Linked DNA regions of Homo sapiens: regions 2 and 3 are each reported to be linked to region 1. Evidence: microRNA targets listed by miRTarBase, many of them from high-throughput screens and not tested one by one. Region 1 holds a microRNA gene; each other region holds the end of a gene's coding sequence.
The links. Region 1 holds the annotated microRNA hsa-miR-6827-5p (UGGGAGCCAUGAGGGUCUGUGC, at 2,022-2,043, opposite strand). A microRNA usually pairs through its seed, bases 2 to 8, with sites in the 3' UTR of a target mRNA and lowers its output. Matches are read on the target gene's strand: a 7mer-m8 pairs with bases 2 to 8, a 7mer-A1 pairs with bases 2 to 7 and ends in A, and an 8mer does both.

Region 2: miRTarBase lists ELFN2 as a target of hsa-miR-6827-5p. Seed matches in the 3' UTR shown: 7mer-A1 at 3,074-3,080, 7mer-m8 at 3,097-3,103, 8mer at 3,355-3,362, 8mer at 4,746-4,753 and 7mer-m8 at 5,744-5,750.
Region 3: miRTarBase lists VAV2 as a target of hsa-miR-6827-5p. Seed matches in the 3' UTR shown: 7mer-A1 at 8,524-8,530 and 8mer at 8,390-8,397.

Annotation. Positions count from the first base shown.
Region 1 is chr3:134,365,815-134,375,125 of GRCh38, forward strand. It overlaps MIR6827 (microRNA 6827), which reads right to left and starts at 2,048; the gene lies at 1,990-2,048. AMOTL2 (angiomotin like 2) reads right to left here and starts at 8,633. Exons shown (of 10, transcript NM_016201.4): 1 at 8,528-8,633; 2 at 4,886-5,680; 3 at 1,683-1,989; 4 at 469-613; 5 at 3-95. The coding sequence starts at 5,619. RefSeq lists enhancers at 7,893-8,692, 8,693-9,311.
Region 2 is chr22:37,365,484-37,375,211 of GRCh38, reverse strand. It overlaps ELFN2 (extracellular leucine rich repeat and fibronectin type III domain containing 2), which reads left to right. Exons shown (of 3, transcript NM_052906.5): 3 at 1-7,252. The coding sequence ends at 2,140. Among named protein-coding and RNA genes, the nearest start is that of ELFN2, 57 kb to the left of the region's middle. RefSeq lists an enhancer at 6,208-7,174.
Region 3 is chr9:133,755,070-133,764,565 of GRCh38, forward strand. VAV2 (vav guanine nucleotide exchange factor 2) reads right to left here. Exons shown (of 30, transcript NM_001134398.2): 30 at 6,825-9,040. The coding sequence ends at 8,993. Among named protein-coding and RNA genes, the nearest start is that of SARDH, 21 kb to the left of the region's middle.

The sequences.
Region 1 (9,311 bases):
ACTCTGAGCAAGCAGCTTGGCCACCATGTCCTGACTGCCGGCCTGGGCCTCCTGTGTCTTGCTTGCCAGGCGGCGATTTGCAGATTCCAATCTCTCTGTTTCAAGGGAAGGAAAGATGTTTTAGTGTCAGGTGAAGCTGCCAGCTTGGGATTTTTCCTGACGTCCTATCAGGATGGGGCTGTATCCTCCATATTGGGGATGGGTTCATAAGGAAACCCCAGCTCAGCTCAGGGCCCCATGGGTGGGAGCCTCCTCTGTCAAGAGCCATCATCCCTGAGGGGATCCTAGGCCCAGTACATAGAGACAAGCATCTCTCTATCAGGGCAGCTCCAAAGGGGTCTCAGCCTGGCTCTCTGAGTTCATCTGCACTTTTGACAGAGAATAGAGATTCCCAATTTTTCTCTAGAACAAAAGAAGTAAGTCCTCTGCAGAGGTTCTCCAACCTCCACCTGTGTGACTGGCTCTCACCTCTAAGATCCCGGTTGAAGTCTTGCAGCCTCCTCATTTCACTGTCCATCTTGTTCCGCATGGTCTTCTCCAGGGCCTCACGCTTGGAGGAGGCTCTGGTCAGGCTCTCATGGGCCTCAGAGAGCCGCTGGATTTCGCTTTCCAGCTGCAAGAGTCAGACAGCAGAGCTGAATGAAGGCGAGAGCTCCCAGGGAGTGATTCGAGGCTGACCCACTACTCTCCATCAGAAAAGGTGACAGATGAGAGGCCACCAAACAGGAGCAAAACCTCCAGGTGACTATGGTGGGATGGTCAGAAGCTTGTAGCCTCCGGAAGTAGAATAGACTGCTGGGACCAGCAAGCAACGGTCCCATCGGCTGCCCCAAGGACCAGATGCTGAGTGAACCCAGGGCCAGGTACTTTGGAAGTAGCTGCCTGCGGGGTGACTAAACACAGCTTCCCTGTGCCCAGTGTCCAGAAGGAAACATTCTACTCTTGGCTGGCTTCCACCAAGAAACTGAGTACAGTTGGCCAGAAGTGGGCACCGAAAGACTCCAGCCATGATGGGGTGGTTTGACCTAACTTGGACACCACAGGACAGTCAAGGGAGGCCTGAGGCCATCTGCTAAAACTGAGCCTCAGCGGAAAACTGGTAACCCTTCACTAAAGAAGCGGGCACCAGGCAGAGCTGCCTCTGCCTGGTGTCCCAGGCATCACCATCCACCCAGAGGGCCAGCTGGGCCCCGGCTGCTCCTCCCACTTGGCTGCTGGCAGGTTCCGCACGTGCTCTTAGCTGGCCTGTGATTCCAACAAGTCGCCCATTTTTTTTCCAAGAGGAGAAGTTTTCTTTTTGGCCAGGGCTGGCCTGGAACAGACTTGCTGTTGTGTGGGGGACACAAAGGGCTCTCTGTGGGAGGTGTCCATGGGAGGGGGTGTGTGCAGGGCAAGGGTGCGAGTGTGCAAGGAGCTGGTGAATGGGCTCTTTCTAATCACCACTGGCCAGCAACTGTTCATGCTCCAGGCCTGCTCTGCCGGCCTCTCGGCTGTTCCCCAGCTGTCTGGAGTCAGCTCAGGAGGGTGCATGAGGAGTGAGGGAGGTGGAAGACAGAGGGATAGGGAGAAATCCAGCCAAACAGTTTTCAGGCTCCTCTGCCTCTCCTTGGACTACCCACTCCCCAGGTAGCCCCTCGGGGTCTCTTTCTGGTCTGCCCTTCTGAAGCCCCAGCAGGGCCTACCTTCTCAATGCGGCCAGCCTTCTCCGCAGAGCTCTCCAGCTCCCTCTGCAGCCGCTCATTGTCTCTCTGCAGCCTGGCATTCTCCCTCAGCACGGCCTCCATCTGGGCCAGGTGGGCACTGCCCGAGGTGGCTGAGGAGGCCTGGGCACTCACTGGCCCCTCCACAGCAGGTGGACTGAGGGAGCTCAGGGGGCCATGGCCGAGAGCAGCTGGATGTGGGGGAGGGGGGTGCTCCTGAGATTGCTGCAGGTACTGGTACTGCTGCTGCTGTTGGAGGAACACAGGAGGCACCTGGGCCTGCAGGATCCTGGGGAACAGAAGAGACGGTGCTCAGAGACAGCACAGACCCTCATGGCTCCCACCAGAGCAGCCCGGGGTCACCCCACTCCTAGGCATACTGGGAAGATGGTTAATTATTATCAATAATTAATATATTATTAAAATTACTGCAGATAATTATTCAACCCTCTAGTGTTAGGCAGGGACCAGTAGGGAAGGCCTTTTCCAAATGTTTCTGCCTGAGGCTCTCAAGAGTCAGACAGCAGGGCTAGAGGGGATTAATGTCAGGATGCTTGTTTCATACCCGCCTCACAGTGGCTGGGGCCTTGGGGATCAGCCTGAGCAATCCTGGGCCTCCTAAGCAACTAATGCTTAAATACATCATCTTAAAAAATGCACCCTGACACTTCTAATCAATGGAAGGTTATTTTTGGGGCTGGAGGCCATGTCAATCATGACTGAGCATATAACCTTCCAGGCCCCAGGACAACTTTGGTGGCTGGGCCCCAGCAGCAACCTTGTGTCTATTACACGAGTCGCCAGTTTCAAGACTGCCAAAGCAGCACTCATTTTCTCCTTCCTATTTCAAGTCCTGCCACCCCCCACCCCCCACTCACCCAGAGTCATTTTTAGAAGACTCCAGTTAAGGTTAGAGCAATGAGACAAATGTCAGGGTAAGAGTCTGAGCTCTAGAGTCTGACAAATAGGGGTTCAAATCCCTGCTCCAGCTGTTTAACCTTGGGCGAGTGCCTCAGCCCCACAGACTGGGCATTGCTCTGTTGCATCATGAGGGTCTCCAGCCTCGCTGGGATTTGTTGAGGATGACGCTATGTAAGGCCTGGCAGAGTGCTGGGCCAGTGCTGGGCGGGTGGCAGGTGCTCCTATAATGGTGGCCCATCCTCCATCTCTTCTAGTAGGAGCCTCAGTTTACCCTCAGTTTAGAGAACAAATGTGGCCCAAACTCTTGGTTTCCTTGGGAGTAAGGGCTGCCTCTGGACTACTGTGGTCACTGAGTTCAGGGGACAATATTCTATTGGCCTCTGGCACTGGTGTAACATCACCCCCAGGGCTCCATGTTGAGGGAAGGAGCAAAGGGCAAGAGGCACGGGGAGTCCAAGGGCCTTCCTGGGACCTTGTGATTCCCAGTGTCACAACTGCCTCAGTTTCACAAAGAATCTTCCAAGTCCCAGAAGCCCCGCAAAAACCGAATTCCCCTTCTGGGTGCATCATCTCAGCACTAATGCACACCCAGCCTGCCCCTGACTCTTGCTGCCATGCAGCCTATGGCCCCCCTGCTCTTCTCAGGACCCTAGGCTAGGAGTCTAGCCCGTTTCCTAACAAATAATCTTCACTGGATCATCTGAAAGGAGATATTGGGCAGATGTATTTCTCCTACTACCTAAGGTGGGGCTTCCAGTAAGAGCTGGGAAGAGGGTCCCCACTGGAGTGCTCAAACTCTCCATTCCACTGCTAAAATGGCCATTCTCAAGGTTGCTTCAAGAACTTGCTCCCCCCTGCACTGGGCCAGGCAGACACAACTGGCATTCTTTGGGGATGACTTAGCTCTGAGAAAGAATAGCAACTCCTTTCCCTTCACACTTGCTTTCCTTTCTCCTCGTCCTCTCCCTCCCCTGCTTTTTGTTCTCCTGCAAACAGTCTACTTCCTTGCCGTGATTACTATCTTTTCCTGACAGGGTTCAATAAGGCTGGTCCAAAAGAAGAAACCACCACTCAGCTTCCGAAACTCTTCCTGACCGAGCCCTGAGAGGGGCGATAAAGTGCGAGTCTGGAGGGGTGGAGGCTGGAGAAAAACTATGAGGCTCCAACCTCTGGTTCCGCCATACCAACCCCATCATGTCACTCATTTCTCGAGAGCAAGGAAAGCCGGACGGTGGGAAAGTGGGTGTTTACTAAAGGAACACAGCAGGCATGAAGAGAACCAGACTTTGACCTTGGGCCACCAGAGGAAGAGTCTGAAATCCTTGGGGTCCCTTGGTGGGGTTTCTTGGACTCCCATAGGGGGAGATGCAGCAGTGATGGCTGTGTCTGCTTCTCTGGAAAAGATGCTGGGCAAGATGAGAAGCGTGAGGCAGGGCCTTGTTTCTAGGAACACTTATTTCTCCAAACTCTCTAGACTTCTTGCCTCCCCGGGTCTTCCTGCTTCCATTCTGGCCCCTTACAAACCATGCTCTGCATGTAGCCAGAGAGAGCATTTAGAAAAGGTAAACCAAATCACATCCCCTGAGGGCCTCCCAGCACACTCAGAATCAAACTCTAAGTCCCTACCATGGCCCAGCAGCCTCTCCTGAGCCTCACCAGAAAAGGGCCCACTTGGACCCAGAATCCTTTCCCACTGCAGGCTGCAGACGCAGGGAGCATATGGCAGGAAATGAAGAGGAGAGACAAGTAAGCTCCTGCCCTGGTGTAAGATGCTGAGAGGTCTCTAATCAGACCACTGGGCCTTTCCAGCCTCTAGTTAGGAATGCCTCCCAATAATCACAGAAAGCAAGCTGCTCATATTTTCTTAAAAAATCTCCAGAGAAGGAAGTCCCACCTTCTTCCTGCTTAACTTGGAAACAGTTTGGCAATCATTCCCAACCTTGCCTTTAGGAAGTTCTTTCTGAAATCTAACCTTTAACCCCCTGCTGCAATTTGTGTACTCTGGGGACTCTAGTTACTTGAATGCTACAGCTAAGCAGACAATGGTGCCTATCTCTGAATTAAGGCAAGGGACACCACTAACTTCTTAGGGGACCTCAGCTAAGTCCCTCTTCTCTGCCAGGCATTAGCTCTCCCTTCTCAGGTTGGAGGTGGGGTGGATCTTGCTAGCTCTGACACAAGCTGTGATCTTGAGGCTCTCCTCCCTGAGAGACCTGTGCTGGAAGAAAGCCAGGAGTTGGAAAGCCCAAGGTGGGGAGAGTTACCTGACTTCAGCATGCTGGAAGTGCGGGCTGCCGCGGGCACGGTACCGTGGGTCAGTGACAGCAGTGGTGGTCTCATGAGCTAGTACAACATGAGGGTACTGAGGTGGGGGTCCTCGGGACTCTGGGCCCTCAGCAGGGGGGCCCCTCAGTGGGGGGCCCTGCTGGTTGCGGGCCAGCTGTGGGAAGCTGTGGGAGGAGCTCATGTGGCTGGGGGCCCGGGCGCCGTTCCTCTCCAGGGACAACTGAAGGAGCCGTTCACTCAACGAGCGCACGTGCCCATGCCTCAGCTCCCGCAGGGCCTCGTCCTGCCTCCGACTGCCTCCCGGGGCCCCACGGGGATCTCGGTCCCCCGCATGTGGCCGGGTCCCTGCCTGCTGGGCCGCATAGTACTGCGAGTGGGCTTTGGCCTCCTCATAGGTGGGCAGCTCCTCTCCCTTGCTGGGCTGTGGGCATAGCCGGTAGAGGGTGTTCTCTGCCAGGTGGTTCTCACCGCCCTGGTGCTCCTGGCCCTGGGGCTCCTGCCTGGTGGCCTGCTGCAGCACCTGACTGTCCTCTGGGGCCAGGATCTCCAGGGAGGCCTGGGGGCTCCCTGTACCCCCAGTTCCAGCCCCACCCCTCAGGGCCTGCTGCTGGATGGCTAGCAGCGTGCGCGTCTCAGTCAGGTTGCCGTAGCGCAGCTGCTCCTGGATGAGGCGGTGCAGGACTGTCCCCGAGGAGTCTTCCAGTGTCCTCATGCTTCTTTGGCTTGCACACAGCTGCCTGGACAATGGCCGGTGGCACCTGGCCCCAGAGCACCTGGAGTGGGGTGGGGAGAGAGAGAGAGAAAAGCAATCAGTGGGAACCCATGGGAAAGGAGAAGGCTTTCCAGGATTTCCATTATTACTCTGGTGGAAAGCATAAAAGTGAAGAGCAGGGGTGGGGCGGTTCACACAAGCCTGGGTTCAAGTACCAGTGCTGCCATCTACTGATTAAGACAAGTTACCTAATCTCTGAGCCTCAGTTTCTCCACCAGAAAAATGCAAAGAATTCTGCTTGACTCATGGAGATGAGGAAAAAAAAAGAGGCAGTGGCCTGCGAGCTCCTGGCACAGTGAAAATCCTGGTAAACGATTACTAATGATAACATTCATGGAGACTTACTATTCCTGGAGAGAGACAACAGGAAACCAGAAGATAACCCACCAGGAACCACCACCCGTACAGCCAGCTACACATCAAACAGCCTGATGGGCAATTCTAAGGCAGGCCTAGTTCAGATCTAACCACTTAGCTATTCAGTCTAGGGGTGGATGGGGCCCCAATTTATTGGCAGGTGATAAAGAATGCATGCAGTCCAGTAGAAGCCCTAGGCGAAAGGCCTCTAGGACCCTCTAGACTGAGGCATGCCAGAGTCCAGCCTTGGTACAGTCAACCTACCACCCTCTAGACTGAGGCATCCCAGAGCCTTGGCACAGTCAACCTACCACCCTCTAGCCCGCTGAACCCCTGGCCACTTTTCCCACTCTCCCTGAACCAGAGAACTCCTGGAGGATGGGCTTGGGCTCTGCTTCATCAAGCGCTGCTGACAGAATGAATCTGGGGCTCCCTGTCATGGGATGACCTTGGCAGTCATTCTGCAAGGTGAACAGGAAGAAGGAGTAATTGCACCTGAATTGGTGAATAAAGGATGAATAAAAATGCTTCAAGAGGACAATGGTTTTGTAAGATGAGGCAAAAAGGTGCCACCCATTAAGGTTAGTGGGTCAGTCTTTTGTGCTGACAGTAACTGCAAGAGAGCTCCAGGAAAAAGGAAGGATGGCATGATGTCTTTGATTTTATGATTATCCTCCCCAACACACACACACACACACACACACACAAACACACACACACGCTACTTGGAAAAGCCCCCACTGGTCCTCTAGGCACATAAGGGATGGGCACTCAGCATCTTTCTTGACATCAGTGTCAAGGAAGCCCATCTTGACTTGGGCCAACTGGAGAAGTAAGGGGAGGCTGTTGGTTGAGAGACCTGGGGCAGGGGAGAGGGGACTGTGAGCCTAAAGTGCTGGGAGATTATATCGGAGAAAGGAGTTCCCTTCTAAGCCTGGGCTCCCAGTGGTTCATGGACTGGAAATCTGCCTGCCTCTCTCACCCAGCTTCCTTTCCACAGCCTCTTCCAACACAAATCTCCAAACTGGGATCCAGGGAAAACTAAACAGAATCCACACTGCCACAGGTCCTGTGTGTATGGGCAGGGGTTGGGGGGGTGGGTGGGAGGAATGTGGCCCCTCCTCTGCCACTAAACTAGCCCTAGTGTCCTGCTTCAGTTTGGGCTATGGCATGTTGGCAGAGCAGCCATTCCCGATCTTTTCCCTCTCCCCACCCCAGTACTCCAGCTGCCCAGAGCTGGGGAGTGGGGGATGAGTCTGGAGGGCACCTCTGTACCCATCCTTCCTGGCACCCAGTCATGCGCCCCCCACACACAACGAGGGGTAGATGTGCAAGACTCCAGAGCTACCCGAGGCAAAGCAAGCAAATGGGATTCAATTCGTATGGGATTCAGTTCGCCCTGGAGTTTTATCTGCGGGCATTTCCTATGATAATCACTCTCTGGGCCGACTCCCACAGAGAAGGCAGGGGAGCGGCAGGAAGGAATGCGGAGCCTTCCTGACAGATTCCAGGCGCTCCATAGTGTGCCCGGACTGGGAGCAAGGAACATCTCCAAGGCCTCTCATCGCGAATTTGTCCCGGCCAAGCCCCTCAGATTCACGTCCTTTCAGACATCAAACGCCTGGGCCTTTACAAAAACCTGCTTCCGCGCCCCCGGCCGCGAACCTCTGCTGCACTCGCCCGCTGCGCTCTCTGAAGGCCGCCTTTCTAAGCCAGCGCGCGTCTCCAGCCTTGGCCTGGGCTCCTGCTCGCCTAAGGAACCAAAGACAGTCTCCAAGCTAGGAGGTTCTGGCACCCCAGCCAGGGCTCCCGCCCCACCACGAGCCCGGGCGGACCTGGAGCACCGGTGGCCGCTGGTACGCCTGGGGCGAGCCGGTGAGGGTAGCCCGAGGCCCGGAGAGGTCTTTAAGCATCGCGGGTCCGCCTCCCTCCCTCTCGAGCCCTCTTTGTTTTCCAAATACTCTAACGCTGACGTCACCGGGCTGGACAGCAGGCTGCATTCTTTCTAAGTGAGGGCCAATTCGTGGCTCCAGAGAGGATTTTCCAAGGAAGACAAAGAGGAATTCTTGGACTAGTTGGGGGCAAAGGCACCTGTAACCCCCACCTAACCAAATCAGCCCGCAGGACCCTGCAACTTGAGCTCCAAGCGGCGCCTCCATCCCTGTCCCCCGCCACCCCCACCCCCGCCGACCTGCAACCCGAAACACTGTGGCTGTTGTCTCCGGAGTCGGCCCTCTCCCCTCTCCCCCAGCCCCAAGAGACCCGCGCGTTTCTAGAGCCCCGCAAAGCCCAGCGCGCTGCGCTCCCTGGGCAGAGCGGCCCTTGCCAGGCACTGCGGCTGCCTCGAAAGGGCGCACTGCGCCCCGAGGACGCTCGATCCTCGAGGCTCCGACTCCCGGAAAAGGCCGGGTTGCGCCGAGACTCCAGCTTTGGCTGGGGCACGTTTCTGTGGCCTCGCGCGCTCTCCCGAGCGCCGAGCGGCCTTCCTTACCGCTGCGGCCCGAGGGTGCCCAGCGCAGTCAGACACCACAACCTCCGGCTCGGCCCAGCTCAGCTCGGCGGCGAAGATGTGTTCTCGGCCGTGGCGCCGACGCTCTGGCTGTTCGCGCCCCAGCGCGCAGCCCCAGGGTCGGCCCGCGCCGGAGGCGGCTGCTATGCCAGGAATGTGAGAGTTTCAGGTTCCCCCTCGGGATCAAAGCGAACCACAAATAACCTCTCAGCGCACCGCCCTCCTCCGCCCTCCGCCTTCTCCCGCTCCCTCCTCCCGGCCCCCGCCTTCCTCCGGGGAGGCGGCGCTGCTGGCCGAGCGCCGGCCCGGCCCCCGAGCTCCGTTCCTCCGCGCCCAGCGCCCTCCAGGCCGCGGTGTGTCCGCCCCTGCCCCATGCTTTGCCTTCGGAGCTGCTGGAGACAATTTAATCCAACTCTGCCCATTATCGCCTCCACTCCCAGTCGCCGACCCGCTCTCACCCTTCATCCCTAAACCCATCGACGGGACGACAGCAAGGGCTGTACCACGCGTGTCCTGGGGTTGCTGCGGGAGGGGACTCCGGCTGTGTGTGTGTGTGTGTGTGTGTGTGCGTGTGTGTGTACCGGGGGAGGTGGGAAAGGGAGGAGGGACTGCAAAGACATCCATATCCTCTGGGCTGGGACAGTGCCCCGGGCTAAGTGAATGCTTCCAGCCACAGAGCCTCTTTCCCCTAACCCCCGCTGTTTTCACCCCCAGCGGCAACCTTTGAATGCACTTTTGTTTACAAACACCTTCGCCAGCTATTTTA
Region 2 (9,728 bases), not on the chromosome of region 1:
GCAGCTGGGCTACAACAAGCTCAGCAACCTGACGGAGGGCATGCTGCGAGGCATGAGCCGCCTGCAGTTCCTCTTTGTCCAGCACAACCTCATCGAGGTGGTGACGCCCACCGCCTTCTCCGAGTGCCCGAGCCTCATCAGCATCGACCTGTCCTCCAACCGCCTCAGCCGCCTGGACGGTGCCACCTTTGCCAGCCTCGCCAGCCTGATGGTGTGTGAGCTGGCCGGCAACCCCTTCAACTGTGAGTGCGACCTCTTCGGCTTCCTGGCCTGGCTGGTGGTCTTCAACAACGTCACCAAGAACTACGACCGCCTGCAGTGTGAGTCGCCGCGGGAGTTTGCCGGCTACCCGCTGCTGGTGCCCCGGCCCTACCACAGCCTCAACGCCATCACCGTACTCCAGGCCAAGTGTCGGAATGGCTCGCTGCCCGCCCGGCCCGTGAGCCACCCCACGCCCTACTCCACCGACGCCCAGAGGGAGCCAGACGAGAACTCGGGCTTCAACCCCGACGAGATCCTTTCGGTGGAGCCGCCGGCCTCGTCCACCACGGATGCGTCGGCAGGGCCAGCCATCAAGCTGCACCACGTCACGTTCACCTCGGCCACCCTGGTGGTCATCATCCCACACCCCTACAGCAAGATGTACATCCTCGTGCAGTACAACAACAGCTACTTCTCCGACGTCATGACCCTCAAGAACAAGAAGGAGATCGTGACGCTGGACAAACTGCGGGCGCACACTGAGTACACCTTCTGCGTGACCTCGCTGCGCAACAGCCGCCGCTTCAACCACACCTGCCTGACCTTCACCACGCGGGACCCCGTCCCCGGAGACTTGGCGCCCAGCACCTCCACCACCACCCACTACATCATGACCATCCTGGGCTGCCTCTTTGGCATGGTTATCGTGCTGGGAGCCGTGTACTACTGCCTGCGCAAGCGGCGCATGCAGGAGGAGAAGCAGAAGTCTGTCAACGTCAAGAAGACCATCCTGGAGATGCGCTACGGGGCTGATGTGGATGCCGGCTCCATTGTGCACGCCGCCCAGAAGCTGGGCGAGCCTCCCGTGCTGCCCGTATCTCGCATGGCCTCCATCCCCTCCATGATCGGGGAGAAGCTGCCCACCGCCAAGGGGTTGGAGGCCGGGCTGGACACACCCAAGGTAGCCACCAAAGGCAACTATATCGAGGTGCGCACAGGCGCCGGCGGGGACGGTCTGGCTCGGCCCGAGGATGACCTCCCGGACCTCGAGAACGGCCAGGGCTCGGCTGCAGAGATCTCCACCATTGCCAAGGAGGTGGACAAGGTCAACCAGATCATTAACAACTGCATCGATGCTCTCAAGCTGGACTCGGCCTCTTTTCTGGGAGGCGGCAGCAGCAGTGGGGACCCCGAGCTGGCCTTCGAGTGCCAGTCCCTCCCTGCAGCTGCTGCCGCCTCCTCAGCCACTGGCCCCGGGGCCCTGGAGCGGCCCAGCTTCCTTTCGCCTCCCTACAAGGAGAGCTCCCACCACCCACTACAGCGCCAGCTGAGCGCCGACGCGGCCGTGACCCGCAAGACCTGCAGCGTGTCGTCCAGTGGTTCCATCAAGAGCGCCAAGGTCTTTAGCCTGGACGTGCCCGACCATCCGGCCGCCACAGGGCTGGCTAAGGGCGACTCCAAGTACATCGAGAAGGGCAGCCCCCTCAACAGCCCGCTGGACCGGCTCCCGCTGGTGCCGGCGGGCAGCGGCGGGGGCAGCGGCGGGGGCGGGGGCATCCACCACCTGGAGGTGAAGCCGGCCTACCACTGCAGCGAGCACCGGCACAGCTTTCCCGCCCTGTACTACGAGGAGGGTGCCGACAGCCTGAGCCAGCGCGTGTCCTTCCTCAAGCCGCTGACCCGCTCCAAGCGTGACTCCACCTACTCGCAGCTCTCCCCCAGACACTACTACTCAGGGTACTCCTCCAGCCCCGAGTACTCATCCGAGAGCACGCACAAGATCTGGGAGCGCTTCCGGCCCTACAAGAAGCACCACCGGGAGGAGGTGTACATGGCCGCCGGTCACGCCCTGCGCAAGAAGGTCCAGTTCGCCAAGGACGAGGATCTGCATGACATCCTTGATTACTGGAAGGGGGTCTCCGCCCAGCAGAAGCTGTGACCCCCCCCTTCCTCCCTGGTGAGGTCGGAGCCAGAGGGCTGGGGGCCTTTTGGGGGAAGGGTCCAGGCGGCCAGGGCGGGGAGCAGACTCGGGGGCCAAGGCCCAGGAGAGGACGCACATGCAGACCCGCACGCACGCACGCACACACACACCTGACCACCACCCGACTGTGAACAAACCAACATCCGACAATAACGGACAGGAAAACAGAGACACATTTTCCTTAAAGTTTACAAACTGATACCGAAACCAGTCGTCTTTACTGTGCTGCCCAGGGACTCTGCTGGGGTGTGCAGGGCCGGGGGGCTGGCGGGGGGAGGAAGGAAGCCAAGAGAGGGTGTGGGGTCTGGGGGGTCTGGGGCTAGAAACAGGTGTGGGGGTCAAGAAAGCTGGAGTAGAGAGGGACTGAAGCCCCTCTAGGGCAGGGAGAGGGTCCCTTCCCAAGCTGGGAGTCAAGTCACCTGCAGATTTAGCATTAGACATCGGGCAATGTCTCCTTCCACTTTAGAGAGGGGGGGAAACTGAGGCCCAGAGAAGGGAGTTGACAACCCCAGGGTCACACAGCAGCTTAGCCTCAAGTCCCCCAACTTCCCAGCCCAGTGCTGTCCCGGAACCCCCTGCAGCTCTCTTGTGGACCCCTGCCCGCCCTGTGCCCACCCCACATCCCTTTCCGAAGCTGTGGTCCCTTGGGGCTGAGGGACTTGGGAATCAGGCAGGTGCTTTTTCTTCCTAGAAAGCCACATGGCAGTGCCCCCAGAGTGTGCAGCTGTGATTCAGAATCCTGGGGGGCTTTTGACCCCTATGCCGGCACCCGGGAGAAGGGAGAGGGTCCTGTTGACGGGAAAGGAGCCGAGGCAGGGCGACATTCCACCAGCCCACTTCAAGTGTCTTCCACGTGGCCTGGGAAGAGTGGGGCGTGTGGCGGGCAGGCCAGCTCCCAGGACGTCTCAGGTGCAGGCTCCCGGCCCCAGCTTCTCTGGTCCTCCGAGACCCCTGCCCACCGCAGAAGGGCAGCGGTGCACTGTGATGCCTGGAGGGCTGCAGGGAGGAGCTGTCATGGGGGACTTCCTGCCTGTCCCCATGGCCTGTGTCCCCACCTGCCCGACCCCATCGTGGGATCTCGGCTCCTATCTCAGCCGCCCACCCGGGGAAGGAGGGCTTTCTCACCCATCCCCTCTGGGCTGCTCATCCAGGCCTGGCCCCCTGGCCAGAGGGGCTCCCATGTTTCCGTGGCAATGGCCACTTCCCTCTTTCTGACCCCCCCACCCAACATCAAACAAAGCACAAACAGTGAGGCCCCCACCCGAGAGAGGGTTGAGGAGCAGGCTGGGTTCGTGGCGCCCCAGCCCCTCCCAGCCAGCCTCTGTCACCATGGTAACCCTGTGCCTGGCAGTTGGTGCCCAGAGTGACCGTTGGGCTCTGGGGTTCTCTGTCCATGTAGGCGGTGGCAGAGGGTGGTGAGGGAGGGCCAGCCTGGCAGCAGCTCCTGGGGCCAGCTCTTTTGGGAGGCAAATCTGCGGTCCTGAGACTGGGGTCTTGACCAGTCAGGATGCTGATGGGCCGGAGTCCATCATCCTTCACCTCTGGGTGGGAGCTGGCCCAGCGGGGTGTGGGGACGCCTCTACTAGCAGCTTTGCCCGCCTAGCAACATGTCGCTTGGCTGCCACCCACCTCAGCTTGGGGGGCCCCGGCTCTCCCCACGCCCCTGCCAGAGACCCCCAGTCTAGGGCCTGTGGCCCACATGGGTTTCCTGAGATTTGGGGAGTGTGACTGAGGGGCGAGGGTAGGCACTGGAATGGGTCCAAGACCGGCACTGTTGGTGGGCAGGGGCTCTGACCAGGAAAGCTAGTGCCATCCCCTGGGGACCCCAACGACCTTCCTGCTGGGGGCAGGGGGTGAGGGAGGACAGCAGAGGGCTAGGAGGCTCGGGCTCAGCTGAGTACCTCTCTCACACCAACTTTGGGGTTAACGAAGCCCAGGGCTCACTTTGAGGGTGACATTTGCAAAGAAAAGACTGTTCTCCTGGGGCGAGGAGGGGAGGGGGCGGCATGGATACGCGGAGCAGACCTCCTCCCCCGGCCCCCAAAACCTGCCCCCCAACCCCTCCTCACACCCCCTTGGCACAACTGAGAAAAGCAAGCAGGCAGAGAAGCCAGGGGTGTGAGGAAGCAGACTCCCTGTTATATTTGCATGACGATTTTACTGTATTTTTCTGAGCAAACATCTGTCGTGTATGTGCCAGTTTGTCCAGACTCCCCCGCCCCCTCTCTGATGCCCTGCTTTCCCACATTCTGTCTGTTGTGATCTGACGAGCAGCTCTTGAAACCCAGGGAGGGGTCAGCTCTGCAAAAACAGACCCAAAACAGGTGCCACCAAGACACAGCCCTGCCCCACACCCACCTCCTGTGTTTCTGAGCATTGGGCCCATGTGCCACCTCCCTTCCTCCCTCCCTCTCTCCACTGCCACCTCCCTTGTCCCCAGTTCCTTCCCCTCCTCCATGCCAGGGAGGGCAGCCCCAGGGAAGCCTCCTCAAGGGCTCTTGTCCCGGTGGAAGGGACTGTCTGTCCGTCCCGCTTGTTCCCGTTTTGTAGATGAGGAAGTCAGGGCTCCCAGACGGGCCTGGTGAATTGGCTGGCCAGCTGGGGTGGAGGATCAGTCACACTGCTGAGTGTAGGAGGCCAGGAGCTTGGGGCTTCGTGGGGGGCTTCAGGGAGAGGGTGGGGGCTTTGAGAAAGGAACCCGTGGGAAGAAGGAGCACGCCTGGGCTGGGCCCCAGGGAGGGTTCCCAGCAGCAGGAGTTAGGGGCCTGCGCTTGCCATTTCCCCATCCTTTCTGCGTGAAGATATTTAGGAAACCTCAGACTCTCTGACTGCAGGGACAGGGGCCCTTCCAAAGAGCAGGACTCTGATGATCCAGGAGGGGAACTGGCCTTGAAGACCCAGTTCATGTGGTTCTTTGTGAGGCAGAGCGGGGTCTAAGACTCGGGTCTCTGGCCTCCCAGCCAGGCCAGAGCCCCAACTGCTCAGCTTGGGGAGAGCCCACCCGGAGGCTGGCCTGCATCTGTGTCCCACGTCCTGCTCAGGATGAGTTTTTCCCAGGCGGGAGGGAAGTATTCACAAAATGTTGCCATCCAAGGTCTGGGTTTGTGATGATGATGAGCATGGTGGAGCTGGGCTGTGGTCTGGGGCAGGCCAGCAGGGCAGACACCAGGAAAAGAGGGCAGGGGGGGCCACAGGGAGGGAGGGGAGATGGAGGCCCGGTGGAGCGAGGGATGTGTGGGTGCCACGCCCTGGACCTCTGCGGGGAGGCCTCCTGCCTTGGGCCGGAACAAGGTCACACCTGGGCTTGCCTGCCTCTGTTGGAGAATCTCCTCTGAAGCTGTTTCTGGGAAGTAGCACAATGGGTCTGCTCCTTCCTGGGAGGGCACAGCAGGTGCAGCTAACCCTCTGTTGGAGCTTATGGCCTTCCAGTAGCAAAACACAGAGGTCTGGCATGAAGGCAAGAAAGCCTGGTTGGTGGGGAAACCTCGTCACGGGTCCCGGCCTTGCTTTTCCCCGCGGCAGGAAGAGTCTCTCTCTGCCCACCAAAGAATCCCTCACCTGGGCTCCCCTCCTGAGGCAGTGCAGGAGGCCTGTGGGAGCAGCCTGTGTCCAGGCTGGGGAGCCCGTGTCTGGGTAGGTCTGGGAAAAGGGCTGTCAGGGGAGCGAGGAGGGTGGGAGTAAAGAGACCTGCTTGGGAAGGCCAGGCCTGGATCGTCCCCGGGAGGCAGCTGGGGCAGCAGCAGTGGGGAGTATCAGGCTGGCCGAGAGTCACCCATGTTCTCAACTGGAAGTTGGTCGCCTGCCCCACTCCCTCCTGGAAATGTAACAGCGGGGTGAACAGAAGTGCAGAGACGGAAAGGAGAGGAAAGGAGACCTAGAGCTGACAAACTCGGTTGTGACAGTGCTGAGGCCGGGATGGCATCAGGAATTAAGGACACCAGTGACAGGTCCTAGCTTATAAGGGGCCTAAGTGCAGGGAAGGGATAAGACACAATGCTCCCTAGTGACTGGCGCCTTGCAGAAAATTAAAATAGGGTGATGGGGGAGGGGCAAGGCTGGTCAGGGAGCATCCTGTGTGGGATGGGGGGACAGGGAGCCAAGCTGTGAATGACAAGAGGAGCCAGAAGGGTGGGTGGGTGGGTGGGTGTGAAGACGAGACTAGAGGGAGTGGGGTTGCAGTGGCTGCCTGTCCCCCAAGCACCGCCTCTGTCCCCTACTACCCTGCCCCTGCCCATTCCTGGCCCAGCAGAGCCCCCTTTCCATGAGTGTGGATGGGCGGGGCAAGCCGTCGGGGAGCCTGGGGAAGCTCAGCCCTGAGGGGCTTACTTTGCCCGTGGAAGCCAGTGTGAAGGTTAGGGCAGCCTTGCCTGGCTGGCCCCATTGCCACCTCTCCTGTCTGACAAGGTGGCTGCTCCAGAGGTGGCTGAGCCCCAGGAGAGGGGACCTCCTCTAACTCTCATGCTCAGATTCCATCCTGACACACTCCTTCCCTGACCCTGGGTGCCCCTTCTAAGACAAAACCAGGGTCCATACTGCTTGCCTCCAGAGGCGGCTTCAGGCCTCACTAAAGGTCAGGCAGTCCTGCTGAGCAGGAGGGAGAGGAAGGGGGTCCTGTAGGACGGGCAGGATGGTCTGGGCCTGCTCCTCCTTCCTCTGCCCCTCTGCCACTCCACACTCCAGCACAGGGCTGGGACAGGGGCTTGGAGTTCCTGCAGTGGCGGCCACACTTCCCTCCCTCCCTCCCTTCCTCAGGAGCCGCCAGTCCCCAAGTTGGCTGTGGTTGGGCACCTGGTTTGGGTCCTGCAGAGCTGGGCTCAGGCCCTGGGCTCTGAACCTGTGAACCCTTGCTGTGTTACGAAACTTTCCTTCCTCTGAGGGCCTTGAACCCTCTCCTTTTCTTCTTTTGGGGGTGGGGGTTAACTTTATTTTCTCTTCCCTGTATCTGCCTCTCCCTTCCCTCAATTTCCTGTTTTAAAACTGAATGGCACGAAATTGTTTTCCTCAACTCGGAGATTCCTGTATGGAGAGAATCAATTTCTATATTTGCAATAAATTTCTTATTTAAAGCTACGGGGCCATGGTCTATGCTGTATTCCTCCCACATTGCACTGCCATGACGCTCGGTGCCCTTTTCCCCATTTCCCTTCCCACTGGGAGCCCCAGTCATGGGGCTAAGGCTTAGTGGACAGGGTGGGGGTCACTGCCTGCGGTCAAGGAAAAAAGAAGGCGGTCTGCCAGAGAGAGGGAGAGGGGGCCAGCAGGAAACTCAATTCCAGGGTCAGTGTGCACCCAGACACTGCGCCGTCTGATGGGTTGGGGGCCTGATGACCTCCCTTCCCAAAAGCCTAGACATCCCTCTGTTGTGTGCTGTCACTCGATTTTCTGCTGCCCTGGCCTCCCACACCCGGGATTCAGAGCCCTGTCAGAGAGGCAGGGCCATGTGGGGGCATTACTAGACTTCAGCTGCTTCCCGGGAGAAAAGCCCCCCATCAGTGACCACGGTCTCTGAGGTCAGCCTCTTGCTGCCCCTGTCTATGGTGGGTCCAGTGTCTCTGTGGGACCCACTGGGCCTCCTCCACGCCTGGCCTGGGCAGCCTGTCCTGGGCCCCTGGCCCACCCCTCCTCTGGTGCCCTCCCGCCATCTGCTGCGGTTCTTCATGGCTGGGAAGCGATCCTCTCTGGTCCTTCGGGGCTTCTGCTGCTTCTCAGATTTAGGAGATGCCTTGTCTCTCTGGTCAGGCTGAGGCACTCAGGTCAGCGTCCAGTGGACTGCAGGCTGAACCGCCCAAGCCTCTGCTCGGGGCCAGTCTGGGGCCTACCTGCTAGCCCCAGCCTCCTTGCTTCCCAGAGGCAGAGCCCACCTACCATTTTCCCAGACTCTTGTTCTCCAATTGCTACGAAACTCTCCTCCACGAAAGCCTGTATTCAGCCTGGATTGCTATGGGGTATTCTGGACTCTGTGGGTCTGAGCTATTCCCTGATATCACCCTGTGGCCTTCAGCCCAGCCCTAGGTCTTCAGGAGCTGTGTCCTAGTGGCTCTGGTGGCCCACAGGGCTTTCCTGCCCCCCTGCCTGCCTCCATTAAGAGTTGGTTGTACTCTGGGGACCCTCTGGGATGGCCCAGGGCCTGGGGCCGCTCACCTTCTACTGCCTGAGCCCCAGCTGGACGCCTGTCCCTTCCACGTGCCCTCACACAGGCTCAGTGCAGCCGTCCCAAGGGGGCCACAGCCAGCCAGGGTCCCTCCTTTGCTCTGCTTCCTGCCAGTCCCAGGCCTCCTTCGTGAGGGAGGTTTCACTGTGAGCCTGCACCAAGGGAGGAGGAGGAGGACGGTGGGACACATTTGTGGGAGGCGCAGAGAGGTAGGGCCTGGGCCCTGACAGGCTCTGTCCCCTCAGGCCCCTCAGCTGGGGCTGCCCTATGGTCCCCGGACCCAACCCTGGGCTCCAGGAGCCCCTGCTCAGCTGCCTGCCTGTCGCACTGGGTCCCTGTTTTCTTCATCAGCAGGAGCTGTTTCTGTTGAAGGACTCATTCTACTCCTCAGGAAACTTAAGAGGTGATCAAAGGGGTCAACGAACCTCGAGAGTCCAAGTCCAGGCCCTTCCCCTCAGCTGCCTCTGCCGGCCTTGGGCTGGGGGAGCCCTGTGGCCCCTGGGAGTGTGGAAGTGTCCTCCGGGATGGCTTTGCTCCGGTGGGTGGAGATCCGGCAACAGTTCTTAGGCTTAGAAAGTCACTTTTATTCCCTAATGTTACAAATGCAAACACCCTTGCCTTTTCATTTCAACTCAGAAGTGATTCTGTTTCTAAACAGAGCACATTTAACATGCATGTTTTGGGGCTTTGGGCTAATTTTGGTCCTGTTTACAAATGCAATTAGGGAAATGTCCTTAGCTACTCCCCGCTTCATAAGTGTCGCGTATCTGCTTCCCTTTCTGCACACTTCAATTATTTGAAAACCGAGCAAACGCCGTGAGCCCACACATTTTCACCGGTGCTTGCATCTTAACATGTGAGCCATTACTTAAAAGAAAACCCCAATTCTGAATTAATGCCTTACTTGCAAATAATCAGTTTATTCGTAAGTGCTCAAGGACATTCGCAAATACCTGAAACGCTACACGTGCTCAGATATCGTGACACAAAATATAGATGACAAAAAGGTGAACTTTCATGGCATAAACGTGTTATTTTTTCTGGGGTGAAGGGGTGTTCCTCCATCTGTTGGACGAATGTCTCTAAGTGTGGCTGTACCTCGTGGATAATGTTGGGTTCAGGCTTCTCTGCTGGCTGGGCCCCAGGAACTGGATATTTCAGGTGGGACAAGGACCTGGGTGCTGCAAACAGGACCATAGTTGCCAGGGGCACCCCACTTTGGCACGTTCTGTGTCATGCCCTCTAAGTGGGGTGCACTTCTCAAGCCTCGCCCAAGGGCTAAACTGCTGGTATATAAGTTCTTCCTCCTTTTCCTTCCTTCTTTTTTTCCAAGATATCTGTAACTCAAACTTCACCGACCACCGGCCCTCTCCAGCCCGGGCAGGCTTCCTTCTC
Region 3 (9,496 bases), not on the chromosome of region 1:
AATGCACACACTGCTGGAGGCAGAAGGCAAGCCTCTGGAGACAACACGCATTGCTCCTTCCCTGGCCGGAAACTGTATTACTATTTTTTTATCTTCCTCACCCTTCCTTTCTCTCATCTTCATCCAACTTTAATTCATTATCTTTCTTGGTGTTTGTATTTGTGCCGTGAAGTCTACTTATGCCTCCATCACTCGATTTTCCAGGTAAAAGTCAAGAAATATCATTGAAGCCCGACAAACGGAGGAAACCAGTGCCTCTGTCCTCCCCAACCCGCTCCTCTTTCCCTTCCCCACTGTCTTTATCTCTTTTTGTCTTGTTTTCCTCTAATTTAGTCTTGAGGCCTCTCTCTGGAGAGGTCATATCCATGTCATCCACCTTCCAGGAGAGGCTGGACCCAGAGGAGAGTGAGGCTGGGGCGTGTGGCTCAGGTGGACACAGAGGAGGCAGCGGCACAGGACACATGGAATCAGAGCAGCGCACTCCTTCCAGATCCAGAGAGAGAGGGCTGTGCCTCTTGGGGCTGATAAGAGGGGATAGTCCAGAACACACATGCTAAACCACCAGTGGGGAGAGGGAGAGGGAGAAAGAGGGAGGGTGGGGGAGAGAGGGAAAGGGAGAGAGGGAGACAGGGAGAGAGAGGGAGAGAGGGGGAGAGGGGGAGAGGGGGAGAGAGAGGGAGACAGGGAGAGAGAGAGAGGGTGAGTGAGAAAGATGGAGAGGGAGAAAGGGAGAGAGAGACACCTGTGGGCCAAAGTCTTTATTGGGGTCCAGGGTGTTACCCAAGCAGCTTTCCCACAAGGGTTCTGATTGGTGGGGTTAGGACAGGCAGCCTCAAGGTCTCTGGTTGCCGACTGACTGAGAGGCCATCACTGTGGCCTGCCTGCATGGCCACACAGTGGGTGGGTCGGTCCAGCAGGCTGTTCCAGCTGTTCCACAGCGAGGTGGTCACCAGGAGGCGGTGGCACAAGACAGATGTCTGGATCGACCACACTGAGGAACTGGGGGAGTGCTGCAGGCACAGAACTATAAACTGTGGCCGGGCGCGGCGGCTCACACCTGTAACCCTGACACTTTGGGAGGCTGAGGCAGGTGGATCACCAGATGTCAGGAGTTCGAGACCAGCCTGGCCAACATGGTGAAACCCCATCTCTACTAAAAATACAAAAATTAGCTGGGCGTGGTGGCGGACGCCTGTAATCCCAGCCACTTGGGAGGCTGAGACAGGAGAATCGCTTGAACCCAGGAGGCGGAGGTTGCATTGAGCCGAGATCGTGCCGCTGCACTCCAGCCTGGCAACAGAGCAAGACTCCGTCTCAAAAACGGAAACGAAAACAACAATAAAAAAACTGTAAACTGTGTCGAGGGTGACGAGCCCTGCTTCTGGTGTGAGAGAGTTAAACTTATATTCAAAATGGACATCAAAGCAACAGGTATAAGAACTCACTATACTTCTTTACATTCGTGATTGCCTTCTGCAGGGCTTACCACAGCTGCCTAGCAGCAGCACCTCTCCCACCGCGTTGAAGACTTGTTTCTGTGCTTTCTCCAATTTCTTTCTTTCAAATCTGGTATTGAAGACATGGAATGCTCAGATACACAGACGAGGCTGCACAGGCCCATTCAAGAACCAGAGCGTCCAGAAGCAATTCACATGCTGTAAACCGGCTTTTCCTTTCTTCCCTTTGACTTTTTTCTCCTTTTCTATTTGAAGTCTTTTATTTTCACGAGAGTCTTGCAGGGTAGAAGTAATCTAAATACCTATGTGTCCGGAAAACATAATCTTTTTTTTTATAAAAATAAATATTCTGCACAATTTATAAAAGGCTAATTTCTGAAATTTTAAAATCTTCAGGTTATACTTCTTAAGCTATTCCGAGCTGTCTGTTTTCGAGGTTTTGGAGTACTGCTATGATGTTTTGGAGTACTTTCGAGGTTTTGGAGCACTACTAGAAGTTTGGAAAACTACTATGATGGCCGGGGGTGGTGGCTCACGCCTGTAATCCCAGCACTTTTGGAGGCCGAGGCGGTCGGATCATGAGGTTAGGAGTTCAAGACCAGCCTGGCCAAGATGGTGAAACCCCGTCTCTACTAAAAATACAAAAATTAGCCAGGCGTGGTGGCGGGTGCCTGTAATCCCAGCTACTCAGGAGGCTGAGGGAAGAGAATCACTTGAACCCGGGAGGCGGAGGCTGCAGTGAACTGAGGTTGTGCCACTGCACTCCAGCCTGGGCAACAGAGCGAGACTCTGTCTCAAAGAAAAAAAAGGAAACTATTATGACATGCACTTTTCTAATCATTGTACATTTCCCAGAGTAGACAAAAATGTTTGACAAAGCCTTCACTTTTAAGGAACGCAAAAAACTTAGAAATCTCTTTTGTTTGATTAAAACAAATAAAAAAAAGACTTGTTTCCAGAGATTCCGGTTCCACACTCTGCCCCAATCCTTGGGGCAGCTTTCCAGTCATCCAGCCGGAGTTTGCCCCTGGTCATTGTTCTAACAAGTGCTCCCTGAGTAACAGCCCCTGAGTCTTTTTTTTTTTTTTTTTTTTCAGATGGAGTCTCACTCTGTCGCCCAGGCTGGAGTGCAGTGGTGCAATCTCAGCTCACTGCAACCTCCACCTCCCGGGTTCAATCGATTCTCCTGCCTTGGCCTCAGAGTAGCTGGGATTACAGGCGCCCACCACCATGCCTGGCTAATTTTTGTATTTTTAGTAGAGAAGGGGTTTTGCCATGTTGGCCACGCTGGCCTCGAACTCCTGACCTCAAGTGATTCACCTGCCTCGGCCTCCCAAAGTGCTGGGATTACAGGCGTGAGCTACCCCGCCGGGCCGCCCCTGAGTCTTTACATGTGGCAATGCGTTAGTTGCTGCCTGACAAATGAGCAACTATTTGAGCATCAAACTCTTGGGTCTCTCTTGCCATGAAGACCTTGTGTGAATTGTTCATTGCCTTCTAGCATTGAGCGTTACTGGGGTAATGTCGAGTGTTACTGGAGTAATGTCTAAAGCAAACCTGATTGGTTTTTTTTCTCTTAAGAGACTTGTTCTTTCTGCTTGGATGCCCAGTGGATTACTTTTTATCTTTGAACTCCAAGGTTAACCATTCTTGGTTCATTTGGCGTGGGGTATGGTGTGCCTTTTTATTCTATTTCTGTAACCTTTAAAAAATATTTTAAAACATTTATCCTTCTCCGTGATTTTGGCTTTGTTTTCCAGACACTCTCAACTATCCATGCGTGTCAGTCTCCTCTGCACAATGGGGATTCTCTGAGATGCTTAACTTTATGCAGGGGGCCCAGTGCTGGCTTCTGGCCTCGGGGGATCTGCAACTGTGGCTCCCAATGCCAGGAGAGTGTTGGAACCGGTCCCAGGCCCAGAGAGGCCAAGACCCTGGAGACTGCCCCGGGGTTAGCTCCCAATATCTCCTCGGGCTTCGATTTCTCTTTTTCTGGAATGGGCCCTTCTTTCCAGCTCAGCTATGCCTTCTGCATGTTTTTTTTCAAGGATTTCTGTGTTGGCAGTGGAGGAAGAGAGGCCTCCATGTTAGCTCAGCCTGATATGCCACTAGAAACTGGCTGAGACCTTGTTGGTCTTGTTCAACATTGGATCTCAGGTAAGGAATCAATACAAATTGATTGGATAAATGAGAAAAATCAAGCACAAGCACAAAATTCGTATTTTTTGCAACACTTAATAGATAAAAGAAAACACCTAGGCTGGGTGCGACGGCTCACACCTATAATCTTGGTTTTTTGGGAGGCCAAGGTGGGAAAATCATTTGAGGCCAGGAGTTCAAGACCAGCCTGGGTGAAGTAGCAAGACCCCATCTCTACAAAAAATTAAAAAAAAAAATTAGCTGGGCAGGGTGGCACGTGCCTGTAGTCTCAGCTACTTGGGAGGCTAAGGCAGGAGGATTGCTTGAGTCCAGGACCGTGAGGCTGCAGTGAGCTAGGACTGGGCCACTGCACTCCAGCCTGGGTGACAGAGTGAGACCTTATCTCTTAAAAAAAAGAAAGAAAAGAAAACACCCAAAGTGGGTCAAGTAGGGATTGTATGAGTCCCGTAGAAAACTGCAACACATTCAGGGAAAGAGGGGGAGAGGGACAAGCAGGGGGAGAGAGAAAAGGAGCAGAAAGAAAAACAATCCAGAGCTTCCTCAATTCTCCCCCCACCCCTCCCCACTCCCTGCATATCAGCTTCCCCGGCGGCGGCTTTTCCATTTGGTTTCTTCCCGGGCATCGAAAAGGCACAGAGTGGGCCCTCGCTAGGACTGTGGAGTGAGTGGAAGTGATTCTTGCTGCAAAGCCATCGTGGAGAACTTGCCGCAAATGTGACTCTGAGAAGGACTCGGAAGAGGTGACACGAGGTCCTGAGGGTAGGCCCTAATCCAAGAGGACGGGGTCCCCATGAGAGGAGGGAGAGACCTCTGAGATGAGCATGCAGAGGCCTCAGGAGGAACCAACGCCCTCCCTTACTGCATCTCCAACTTCCAGCCTCAGAACCGTAAGAAAGGAGATTTCAGAGTTGAGGCAGCCGGGTCTGGGGCCTGAGCCACAGCGGTCACGGCAGCCTGAGCCAACCAGGACAGGGCGAGGGCAGGGGCGGAGCGAGGGGGAGGGGCGGAGCGAGGGGGAGGGGCGGAGCGAGGGGAGGGGCGGAGCGAGGGGGAGGGACGGAGCGGGGCAGGGACGGAACACCGGGAGGAATGGAGCTAGGGGAGGGACTGAGCTAGGGGAGGGTGGAGCGAGGGGAGGGATGGAGGGAGGGCAGGGACAGAGGGAGGGCAAGGACGGAGGAAGGGGAGGGATGTGCTCGCCCAGAGCCCCCATGCCTGGTAGAAGAAAACACTCAGTAAATGGGAGCTATTTTATTTTCTCTCAGAACGCAAGGCCCCATCACTTCTCCTTGATTCACCCTTCTGATCACCAGCCTGGGACACCCACTCCACGGTCAGCTGTCCAGGGGTCGCCCTGCACCCACACCTGCCTGCCACCCCCAGGGGGCCAGGAGCAGCAGGGAGGGCTGCGTGAGGAGGGTGGGGCCGGCCCTGGGAAGGGGTCCCTCCTGGAGACTCGGCTGACGTACCAGTGAATGGGGGCGAGGGCAGGTCAGATGGGCATGGTCCAGCCTGCACATCTGGGAGAAGGCTTGGCCCAAGGGAGAGGTTCCTGGGGTTGGAAGCTCCTGGAGAAGGGGGCATTTTCACTCTGCCCATCGGGTTCGCCTCCCAGCAGCCTCAGTGGGGCGAAGGCTGGCCAGGGTCCAGTCTGCAGGAAGGGTGGGAGACCCAGGGGCTGGCCTGAGAGGCAGAAAAGTCATCGCTTAGGAACTGGGTGCTGCCCAAACAGAAACGTGGACTCTGGCATCAGACCGAGCTGTGCAAGGGCCACGTGTGACCTTGGATGAGTCACTTCACATATCTCAGCCTCAGTTTCCACTTCTAGAAAATGGGCTGTTTCCTGGCCAGAGCTGTAAGGGGATCTCTGTTCTCTCTCATGGCCCTGTGGCAGGAGCTCCAGCAGCCACCGTGGACCACGAGGCAGCCACAAGGAGGGAAGGGCATGCTAAGGACGGGAGATCAGGGAGGAGGAGCCTCTGAGGATGAGGGATCAGGAAGGAGGAGCTTCTGAGAATGGGGGATCAGGGAGAAGGAGCCCCTGAGAATGGGGGATCAGGAAGGAGCAGCCATTGAGGATGCAGGATCAGAGAGGGAGGAGCCTCTGAGGACGGAGGATCAGGAAGGAGGAGCCTCTGAGGACGGGAGATCGGGAAAGAGGAGTCTCTGAGGATGGGGGATCAGGAAGCAGGAGCCTCTGAGGACGAGGGATCAGGAAGGAGGAGCCTCTGAGGACGGCGGATCAGGAAGGAGGAGCCTCTGAGGACGAAGGATCGGGAAGGAGGAGCCTCTGAGGACGGCGGATCGGGAAAGGAGGAGCCTCTGAAGATGGGAGATTGGGAAGGAGGAGCCTCTGAGGATGGGGAATCAGGAAAGAGGAGCCCCCCTGAGACCAGGGGATCAGGGAGGGGGGAGCCAGGGTTCCTGATGGCTCTGGGACCAGGGCAAGGCAAAGGAGCTGCTGCCTCTGGATGGTCCTCCATGAGGGGAAGGAGAAATAAATCTCTCATTTTCTATTTTGGTTTTCTCTATCATACACCACAGAACCCACCAAAATGGAGAGGTTTTTTTTTTTTTTGTTCTGTTTTGTTTTGTTTTTTTTAGATTCATGGTCTTGCTCTGTTGTCCAGTCTGGAGTACAGTGGTGCAATCACAGCTCACTGCAGCCTCGACCTCCTGGACTCAAGCGACCCTCCCACCTCACCCTCCCGAGAAGCTGGGACCACAGATGTGCACCACCATATGCCCAACTATTAAAAAAAAAATGTTGTAGAGACAGGGTCTCGCCATGTTGCCCAGGCGGGTCTCAACTTCCTGGGCTCAAGCCATCCTCCCACCTCAGCCTCCTACCTCAGCCTCCCAAAGTGCTAAAATGACAGGTGTGTGCCACTGCACTGAGGCTATTTTTATCTTCAATATACATGTAAAGAAACAGGGGCTCAAGAGGTACCCAAGTGATGGGGCAGGAATTAGAATCCCATTTGTATGCCCGATGCCACCTGGAGAATTCCAGGGCACCGCATGGGAAACCCAGGGTGCTGTGCCAGCCGGGAGGTGGCCATGGCACCATTACCTCCGTATCTCTCAGACCCTGCTGCGGTTGGGCCACCCTGAGATCCAAGCACCCCAGTCAGACAGACCCTGCTGGACTTAGGCGGAAGAATCCAGCCATTCCCTCCTCCCCTGGTACGAAAGGCTGACCACTCCTGCAGAAAAGAACTCAGGTTTATTTGCAAGTAAAAACCATGGTCTGAAAAAAACCCATTGGCAAATGTACAGTTTGTGTCCATTTGGGGTTCCCGCCAGCTGGGGGGGCCCCCAGATCCCTGACCCACATGCATCGGGCTCCCACATGTTCACAGCTAATCTCAGGCCCCTGCAGTTTAGCCCCCTGCAGGGGACACCCCGTCTCCTGCTGAAAACCATCGGACTCCCAGGCTGCACCCAGCCCTCCAACCCTCCTGCCTTAGTGCAGTGCAAAAACCAAACCAAACACAAATCTCAAAACAAAGAAACACAAAACAAAAAAATTCACAAAAACCAGGGTTCTAAATTATTTTTTCTCAGTGTCCTTCGTGATCATGATGACTTATTTGTCAACAAACTAAAATATACATCATTTTCTTGCTATTATAAAATCTCTTATTATTCACAGATATATAACGGGAGATTTGGATGAAATAATTACAAACTTTTTTCCCCTTAAAAAACAAACAAGCCAAACAAAACACAAACAAAACAAAAACCCCAAAACCAAAACACAAGACCTTTCTGACGACAGTAAACACAGGGGCTGCTGGCTTCCTCCCCGCCATCCTCCGCGCCTGCTGGGCCGCAGGTCGCAAAGTGCTGGGTGTACCCCGACACGGAGGCCCCAGGGTGCTCTCTCCAAGGCTGACTCTTCGCTTCCCCTGCCCTGCCTCCACCTCCCCTCATTTCCCAAGCCTTTGTCGAGGGCCCCTCTCTCCCCCTGCCGCTCCCCATCCCCATGACTCCTCCCGCCTCTTCCCTACACCCCAGAGGCATACAGCCCAGAGGCCACAAGGCCAACCTCAGAAGGAGCCCCTAGGTCCCCAGCGCCACCCACAGCAGGGACCAGCTTCCCCCACACCCAGCCTGGGCCGGGCACCTCCCACAGGCTGTGCAGCTGGCCAGAGGGAGAAGGGGCTACAAGAAGCCCAGGTCTCAACAGAGGCTTTGGCAAGGAGCTGGGAGGGAGACACTGTTACCAGGTCTCATGCAACATCAGGGTAGAGAAACCAGGGTCTGGCTAACCCAGCCAGAAGTCGAAGGCCAGGAGTTGTGGCTGGGGGAGGTAATGGGGTAGAGCCACCCCCAAGAGCACTTATTTTGAGTCGCCCGAGGCCCAGTTTGTAGGCTGCAGGGGCCCTTGGAAGGAAGCCCTGCCAGGGGCTGGAACCAACCTCTCGTGCCAAGGCTGGGCAGACCCTCAGGGACCACCCTTCAGGAGAGCAGAGGGGCCTCCTGGAGAGGGACCTGGCAGGGATCTAGAGAGGGGAAATCCCTGTTTTCTTCCCTGCCCATTTCAGGGTTTTTACAAAAGATGTACTGATCTGGCAGCGCGGCCAGGCAGACACCTTCCCAGGACTCCAGAAAGGGCCTCTCAGAGAGAGGGCAGGAAACGGTACCGCTGACCGGGCAGCAGGGTTGGAATTTCATCATTCCAAAGGCCCCTCCCAAGAGAGGGGCCTGCCGTGTGGGGTCCGGGTGTGCCCCTGGCAAGGAGGGGAGTGGGGGAGTCAGGGAAGTCTTGGGAGCCAGAGTGGCTGCAGAGGGCGACCACAGTGCTCTCTCCTCCCGCGCCCTAGCACAGTGGGGCAAGTGGGCCCACAGTGAACAGCCTGGCTCTGGTCCCGTCTGCCTCCCGAGGTCTGACACCTCCCCCTGGGAGCAGCAGGAAAAGACAGGCAAGGCTGAGTCCAGGGGCTGAGCAGAGGGTGTGGGGGCAGGTCCCCTCCGATGTCCCTAGCCCTTCCTGGGACAGCATCTGCTGTTCAAACCTAGGCTCCTGAAGGCCATCTCAGTTGGACAGGGGCAGGCGATGGGCCTCTGGCCTCAGCCACTACCCAGAGCCTGGCTCGCAGCGCTGTCGGTGCCCCCTCCTCTGCGCTCTGGGTGGGGCTAGCCCAGGTTTCCTCTATGTACAATAGCATACCCAGTGATGGGTCGCCGAGGGCAGGCTGACAGTGAAACGGTTCGAGTTTAGGATTCTCAACACCCTCCCTATCCCTGTGGGCAGTGGAAGACTGGGAGGTTGGTATTTCCCCTCTGAGTCACAGAGGAGCTAGAGACAGACTTCAGGGCTGGAGTGACTCTCCCAAGAAAATCTGCGAGTCTTGTCCACGTTCCTGCCGTCACTGGATGCCCTCCTCTTCTACGTACGTTGAAGGAAACCAGCCAATCTGAAAAAGATGGTAAGATCGTGTCTGTGTGTGTGTGTGTGTGTGTAAGCAGGTGTGTGCATGTCTATGTTGGGGTGAGGGCAAGTAGAGGCTCATGAAGATGGGGGGCCCTTCGGAAGTCCAGAGTTCTCAGAAGGACCTGGTGGAACCATTGCCTGGGAGTAAGAGCAACCCAGAAAAACACCACCCTTGGCCAGTTTAAGATGATCTGCCCACCCTCCAGCTGCCAGTCAGAAAAAAAATAAACCCTCCTGAGGAAAAGAACATCACCCAGAACAACTACAGCTTTTTCTTAATACACAAGCTTGGCATTCAGTCAGGACCAAATGACAAAAACCAATAGAAAAAGCAGACAGTAGAAATCAACCCACAGGTATTGAGGTCATCTGTCAGGGGAGATTAATAACTCTAATTCATACGTTTAAGAAAACGGATGAAAAGGCAGACAATTTTACC